Linked DNA regions of Homo sapiens. The protein of the gene in region 1 interacts with the protein of each later gene in a biochemical or structural test. Each region holds a gene or a part of one and is shown on either strand. Other genes may lie near its edges.

Region 1 (3,852 bases):
CGCGCCACTGCACTCCAGCCTGGGCGACAGAGCAAGACTCCGTCTCAAAAAAACAAACAAACAAAAAAGGAAGATATTGGCCAGGCGTGGTGGCTCATGCCTGTAATCCCAGCACTTTGGGAGGCTGAGGCGGGCGGAACACGAGGTCAGGAGATTGAGACCATCCTGGCCAACATGGTGAAACCCTGTCTCTACTAAAAATACAAAAATTAGCCAGGCCTGGTGGCGCGCACCTGTAGTCCCAGCTACTCGGGAGGCTGAGGCAGTAGAATCACTTGAACCCAGGAGGTGGAGGTTGCAGTGAGCTGAGATCGTGCCATTACACTCCAGCCTGGGTGACAGAGCGAGACTCTGTCTCAAAAAAAAAAAAAAAAAAAAAGGAAGCTATTTGAGCTAGCATCAAATAATTAGTGCACAGTACACATGGAAGAACTATCCTTTTAATCAAACGGGCATTTTTATTACTATTTGGCTTTGTTCTGGTCTTAACCTTTCCCTCAATTGTGAATCGCTAATGACAACTTTTATACAGATGTCATGATTTCCATGGTTTAAACAAATGTAAAATTAGTTTAAAATGCCAGAATGAAATGGATACTCTCACAAATTTGCTCATTGCTATACTAAAGTGCCTTGATAAAGAATTTTACAATAAAATCCTGTTAATAAGACTGCTGATTCAGAGATGACCATAATTCACACGTGATCGAGACTTAAAGCTTATTGTTTTACTTGTGAAAAAAGTTTAAGCAGAATGTTTAACTTTTAAAAACAAATAAATGATATTGAAAGCAACGGTTTACATTAACTTACGTGCTAATGTCTCTCATTCAGCTTTAGCAGGTCCTCAAGGACCTTTCTTAATACTTTTTTGGTTAACAAAAGTATAAATGGAAACTTGAAGAGAACCTAAGAAGAGAAATGAAAATGATTGAGGGAATATAGACCCCAAAACACACAAACACACACACACAAGCACGTTTAAGATAGGGGTTGAAAAGACATACTGAGGAGGAATTTGAACTTTATTTTTGTTTTCACCTTTGAGACAGGGTCTCACTATGTTGCCCAGGCTAGAGTGCAGTCATAGCTTGCTGCAGCCTCAAACTCCCAGGCTCACATGATCCTCCTGCCTCGGCGTCTCAAGTGGCTACAGGCACACACCACTATGCTGGCTATTTTTTTTTTCTTTTTTGTTTTTGTAGAGACAAGGGTCGCCCTTTGTTGACAGGGGTGGTTTTTGAACTCCTGGGCTCAAGGGGTCCTCCTGCCTTGGCCTCCCATTGTTGGGATTACAGGCGTGAGCCACCTTGCCAAGCCACGTTTATTTTTAAAAACAGGATAAATATATTCTTGTCCAGCCAATCCCAGAATCAAGTACAGTAGCTTGAAATAGATGAAATAATTTTAGAATGTATTGTTTTATTTATAGAGCTGATAGATAAATGAAACAGTATAAAGGGTAAATATTTGCTGTTTAACAGACAACCTCAAAACTTAGCTTAAAAAAAACAATTATTTTTCCCCTCAAATCTGATGGTTTTTCTGCTTCACTTGGTATTGGCTGAGGTGTGGGAAAGACCTTCACTTCTCCTCTATATGGGCCTTTCTCTACCTGGCTGCTTGGATTTCCTTAAAGTGTGGTGGCAAGGTTCTAAGAAGGGACATTCCAGGAGACAGGAGGTAGAGACTGCCAGTCTTCTAAATCCTAGATTTGGAAGTCCAAGAATGTCACTGTGGGTCAAAGCCAGTCAAGGCCAACTACAGAGGGAGGAGAAATAATGTCTACCTATTGATAGGAAGGGTGGCGTGCATAAACAAGGAAGGGGGAATTGCTGGGGGCCACCTTTTGAGACTTGCTACCGTAGGTGCTATGCTAGTTGGATGTTAAGGCTAAAAATAAAAATGGTATCGGCCAAGTTTGTGGGTCATAATGCTAGGAATGTTTAGGAGGCATCTCTTTTTTTGAGGTTAACTTCGGAAGGCACTAACATGATCTCCTGCGTGACTTCCCTTAATGATGTCACTGTTGACATAATACTGGGTGAATTAATGTGATTAAGTAAACTTGCTTACTTACTTCAGGAAACAGAGGTATCTAAACAGATTACATTTTAAAATAAATTGTCAGATGTTTCACTGTAATGGAATTTTCTTTACATCAGTGAAATTGATTACCAGGTAGTGGGATGAACATCTGAAACTAGTTCTTAGTTTAAGTTGTCTGAGTTTTTGTGTATACTTTACCTATTCCCAGTTTAAATTGGCTTTCAAACAGTTTGTTTTCTGGGTACTCTTATAGGTGTTGGGGTATGAAATTAGTGGTAATTCTTTTTGCCTATTTTCTTTTTTTTTGTCTGAGATACCCTGAGTCTCGCTCTGTTGCCCAGACTGGAGTGCAGTGGCACAATTTCGGTTCACTGCAACCTCCGCCTCCTGGGTTCAAATGATTCTCCTGCCTCAGCCTCCTAAGTAGCTGGAATTACAGGCGTGTACCACCTTGCCTGGCTAATTTTGTTGTATTTTTTTTTTTTTGAGATGGAGTTTTGGTCTTGTTGCCCAGGCTGGAGTGCAATGGTGCAAACTCAGTTCACTGCAACCTCTGCTTCTGAGGTTCAAGTGATTCTCCTTCCTCAGCCTCCCCTGTAGCTGGGATTACAGGCATGCACCACCACACCCAGCTAATTTTGTATTTTTGGTAGAGACAGGGCTTTTCCATGTTGGTCAGGCTGGTCTCGAACTCCCAACCTCAGGTGATCTGCCCGCCTTGGCCTCCCAAAGTGCTGAGATTACAGGCGTGAGCTGCCGTGTCCGGCCTCTTTTTGCTAATTTTCTAAATTTATGTTTATAGTAGATTTTCATAAATTATCAAAAGTGAATTATTAGATGTGGAGTAAAAATTCAACTTTGAGTAGTTTTAGAAATTATTTATTGCTAAATTAGAAAATAAACTTTCAAAAGAGATCTCTTTTTTTTAAAAAAACTTAATTGAGACAGGGTCTCACTCTGTCACCCAGGCTGGAGTACAGTGGTGCAACCTTGGCTCACTGCAGCCCCTACCTCCTGGGTTCAAGCAATTCTTGTGCCTCAGCCTCCCAGGTAGCTGGGAATACAGGCATGTGCCACCACGCCCAGCTAAATTTTGTGTTTTTAGTAGAGACAGGGTTTCACCGTGTTGCCCGGGCTGGTCTCGAACTCCTGACTTCAAGTGATCCGCCCACCTTGGCCTCCCAAAGTGCTGGGATTACAGGCGTGAGTCACTATGCCTGGCCTAGAGATGGGATCTGCTTTTTTTTTTTTTTTTTTTTTGAGATGGAGTCTTGCTCTGTCACCCAGGCTGGAGTGCAATGGCACGATCTCAACTCACTGCAACCTCCGCTTCCCAGGTTCAGGCAATTCTCCTGTCTCAGCCTCCTAAGTAGCTGGGATTACAGGCACCTGCCATCATCCCTGACTAATTTTTGTATTTTTGTAGACGGGGTTTCACCATGTTGGCCAGGCTATTCTTGAACTCCTGACCTCAGGTGATCCGACCGCCTCGGCCTCCCAAAGTGCTGGGATTATAGGCATTAGCTACCGCGTCTGGCCTCTAGAGATGGGATCTTGCTTGCTCTGTTGCCAGGTTGGCCTTGAACTCAGGCTAGGGTTAAGTGATCTTTGTGCCTCGGCCTCTCCAGTAGCTGGGACTACAGGTGCGTGCCACCACTCGCAGCCTAAAATACTTTTTAAATCTCACCTACTTTCTAGCAGTATTTTATTTTATTTGGGCGCAGCTCTGCCATCAGTAGGCTGAGCTCCCTGCAGCCTCAAACTCCTGGGCTGAAGCAATGCCTCTGCCTCAGCCTCCTGAGT
Region 2 (3,852 bases), on another chromosome or scaffold:
AAAGCCTCTTGGAGAGAATTAGAATTATAGGTAGAAAGAATTAGAATGATAGTAGAAAGAGCCTCCCAAGCCACCGAGGAACAAGGTAAGACTGCTAGAGATGGTTTTATCCTCTGTGGGAATCGATTTGACTGAATTTGCAGTGGGTTCAGATTCCTTCAGCAGAGACTTCCGGGCTGCTCCCAAACTCATTCTGCTCTGGCCTTGAAGGGGACTCTTGACTCGTGGCTTCCTTGAAGCTTGTGTGGAGTTAGCGAGGCCCTTGTGGCCAGGCAGCCTTGGAGTGGAGTGCCACTTCACTCTCCCAGGGATGCTCTGGTCCACTGGTGGAGAGAGCACCGAATGCAGAGTCAATCCTTTGAGTTGCTTGGTCAGAAGAGGGGGCCGCAGGGCTTCTGGTCAGTGGCTCATTGCCTGGCTGCGGGGGTCTTGGGGGCTGTGTACTGTAGCTGGCTTGTTTGCACTGCAGACTGAAAAATACACAAATACTTCACGCTTTTTGTACTCCCACAAGTGCCCTGTACACAGTGCAGCCCCTGGGGCTGGATTAGCAAACCAGGGATTCAGCAGGCAGGCAGACAAAATTGGATATTTGCCTAATAAACACCCTTCTTCCATTGTCCCCCACCCCTGCCCCGGGGGTACTCCACGGGAAAACTTCACTCCACAGATGCCAGCAGTTCCCTTTAAATGGGAGTAGGAGGTTGTCATGTGCACTTTGAAAGCTTGTGTGACCCCCTCACACCCAGCTGGCTTGTTAAAGCCTAGAATCGGAGTCCTACATCCTTGTGTACTCTTTGGGTAGGGCAGCTGGCCTTTTCCTGGGGAAAGTGTGTTTAGCCCAGCTTCCTTTCATCTGCATGGCTCTTGCGGCAGGGAGGTGGAGCAAACCAGCCTTGCTTCTTGGAGGCTGTGGGGAGGAGAAAGGGGTTCTACCTGGGCCAGAGCCTGTTTCCTAGTGGACAAGGGGCAGCCAGGCCAGGTGGACCTCGCTGTGGACAGCTGCAGCTGTTCCCGCTGGGCCAGGGCCCTTTGAAAAGGAACCCGGGGGAGCACTTCCCCCCTTTCTTCTTTTCACTAAGTGTCAGAGGCATGGACAAGTGAAACACGTGAAGAATGCCAAAGAGAGAAACAGTGTTTTCAGATTCCAGAAAATTCAGAGGCAGAATAGGTGATTGTACCAACAACCAGAATGTACAGTGATTTCAGTTGCTCCTGAAATTGCTCCTGCACTTCTAAAGAAATCGGGGAGGAAAAACTGCTCTCTAATTGTTTCCTCAGGCTTGTTTAACAGATTTGAGAAAGGGTCATCCGACATTGATGTTTGAGAGTGTCCTTTGAAAAAGAGTGGCACCTTCAACACTTTTCTGGTTTTCAAATAAACACACAACACCGGATTCAACATTAATCATTTTCTCTGAAATTAATTTGAGGGTTTGCTGTGGAATATCAAGAATTAAAAAAAAAATCATTGATTATTATTTTTAGGTTTAGAGGATGACAAAAGCATCCTTAACCCACAAAACTGTATTTAAAACCTGGGAAAATGCACAGATGATAACGGTATACTTTCTGTGCATTTAATATCTTATTTTCCCCCAATTCTTTCATCAGCACAGTAATTCTCAATAATCCTGTTTGTGTTGTTTCTGGTTTCTTAAAAAACATACACATGGGGGAAAGTAACTCATTTAAGATGTGACCAAAGAGTACTTATTAAACTGTTTTGGGGATTTGGGTTTAAATTGAATAATGTTTTGTGTGTGTGCTTGCACATGTGTGTTGTTTAAAAAAAAAAAAACAGGTTGCTGGGAAGTGTGTTTTAACTGTGAGTGCCGGGTTTCAGCTATTAGCATAAGAAAAAAAGTTTTAGTGCGTTTGCCATTGTCTTGAATGAAGAGTTCAGCAAAGGGAAGGAAAGCCGCAAAAGGGTGATGGTCCATTGAGATTCTTCTGCAGCCCCGAGCTCGTCATCTGCCTCTGAAATCTGTGATCGGATATCACTTTTATCTCGCTTTTCCATTCTCTGGCCTTTTTCACACGTTCACTTTTGTCAAGGTTTATTGATTATGTTTTCTTCTCTACAAATCTGTGGAAAATTTAATGAACCAAAAACAGCAGTGAAATAAAGGGGACTTTTTATTCATTAGCACGGGATTGGGATTGATTCCCTCTTTGGGCAGCCGAGGGCCCCAGGCCTCCTGCAGGCAGCTAGAGGGAGGAGGGAGGGTGGCCCGGCTGCAGGCTGAGGCGGGGACTCCACAGGCCTGTGGCCTCCAGGCTGAGCAGCACGGGCGCAGCCCTGCACTCCTGTCCCAAGTGAACTCTGAAAGCTTGTCCGCGATGGCTGTGCCGGTTGAGCCTGTATGCAACCACGCCGCAGCCCTTACCCGCCATGTCCTCCTGGGTCCTGGCTCAGTGGGCTTGGGGGAGGTGGGGCGGGGGGTGTTGTTTGTATTTCCCAGACTTACAAACCATTTGAGTGCTGGGCCTTCCCTGGGACACAGTTAAGTATCTCCCTTCCTCCAGACCCAGCCCAAACCTGTAATTAAGCAAAGCCCCTGATGTGATTACGCTTTGCTGACTCGGCTGGGTTTGGAGCCATTCCCTCTAGGAAACAGGGTGAACTCTTGCTCTTCCCAGAGGTTTCCTGGGCAGCTTGTGGTGCACCTCTATTGTACACATGTCCGCCTGTCCCCCTCCTTTGGCTCTCTTCCTCTCCCTTCAGCTATCCGTCCGTCCTTTCTGTCTTTTTCTTTCTCCTTCCCCTTTCTCTCTCTTCTGTCCTGCCCCCACCCCCTCTTCTCTCTGGGTCTCTCCTTTCTCTCCCTCTCCGTTCTCTCTCCCCTTCTCCTTTCTTCTCTTTCCCTCCGTTTCCCCCTCCTCCGTTTCCTCCGCCTTCTCTCTCCCTCTCTTTTCTGTCTTTTCTCATCTTTTCCCATCTTTCCCTCCCGTTCCCTCCGCCTCCTCCCCGCCCCCGCCGTCTGGACCTTCCTCTCCCTCCGCGCCGGCTTTTCCGCCACGCGGAGCGCTGGCTGGCGAGGCCGCGTGTCCGAGCGGCGCCGACCGTGCCGCGGCCGGGGGACATTCCGTGCCCCGAGCGCCCCGGGCCCGCGGCTGCGGCCCTCCCACCTGCGCGCCGGCCTGGTTTGCAGCTCCCAAACAATGGCCACATTGTCGCAGCCGCACACCGGCCGCCGCCGGCGAGTGGCGGGAGGCCGGACTCTGCTCGTGGCGAGTCGGGAAGAAAGCCAACGGGCCAGGTCCCCACAGCCGCGCCCGGAGCGCGCGAGCGGCTCCCACCCGGGAAGGGCGCGGGTTCCGAGGGGCGCCCCGGGTCTTCCTCGACCCCGTTTCCCATTGGCCTGCCCTCTTGCCCGCTTCCCCAGGAGGGGCTTCCAGTTGCCTTTACAGCTGGCGAAGTGAATGAGAGCACTCCACGGGAGCCGGGAAGAGAGAGGCCCCGTGACCAAACTTTTGGTGGCGTCTGAAACTTTTTCTGTAAGGCATCTGCAGACAGTAATCACTAAGGCCGCCTTCTGCCCTTGTCCACTCCCGGCGACAGGAAAGGAAGGGCGGTCCTCTCTTCCATTCGTCTTGACCTGTAGGGATTCGAAACCTCTTAGCGCTCAGAAAAAAGATCTTTGAATGCCTGATGTTAAAAGAGCGTCCCTGGGTCCAAGATAGCCCCTTCAGCAGACGCTTAGCAATGCTTCTTTGTGTGCTGGACAATGCAGTAAGTCAGCCAGACTTTTGAGCCACATTTATAAGGAACTGTAAGGGCCGCTCAAGTACACTTGTGCTAAGTTGAATTGATTGAAATTTAATGGCGGTTAGTGGCGATGAATGGTA

The links. The genes of interacting proteins can lie anywhere in the genome.
Region 2: the proteins of BTRC (region 1) and GLI2 form a complex in vitro, tested with the Homo sapiens proteins (one study listed by BioGRID).

The regions. Positions count from the first base shown.
Region 1 is NC_000010.11:101,357,083-101,360,934, forward strand, and holds part of BTRC (F-box/WD repeat-containing protein 1A), read left to right. Parts: intron 1-3,852. UniProt on the Homo sapiens protein: Substrate recognition component of a SCF (SKP1-CUL1-F-box protein) E3 ubiquitin-protein ligase complex which mediates the ubiquitination and subsequent proteasomal degradation of target proteins. Recognizes and binds to phosphorylated target proteins.
Region 2 is NC_000002.12:120,738,650-120,742,501, forward strand, and holds part of GLI2 (zinc finger protein GLI2), read left to right. Parts: intron 1-3,852. UniProt on the Homo sapiens protein: Functions as a transcription regulator in the hedgehog (Hh) pathway. Functions as a transcriptional activator. May also function as transcriptional repressor. Requires STK36 for full transcriptional activator activity.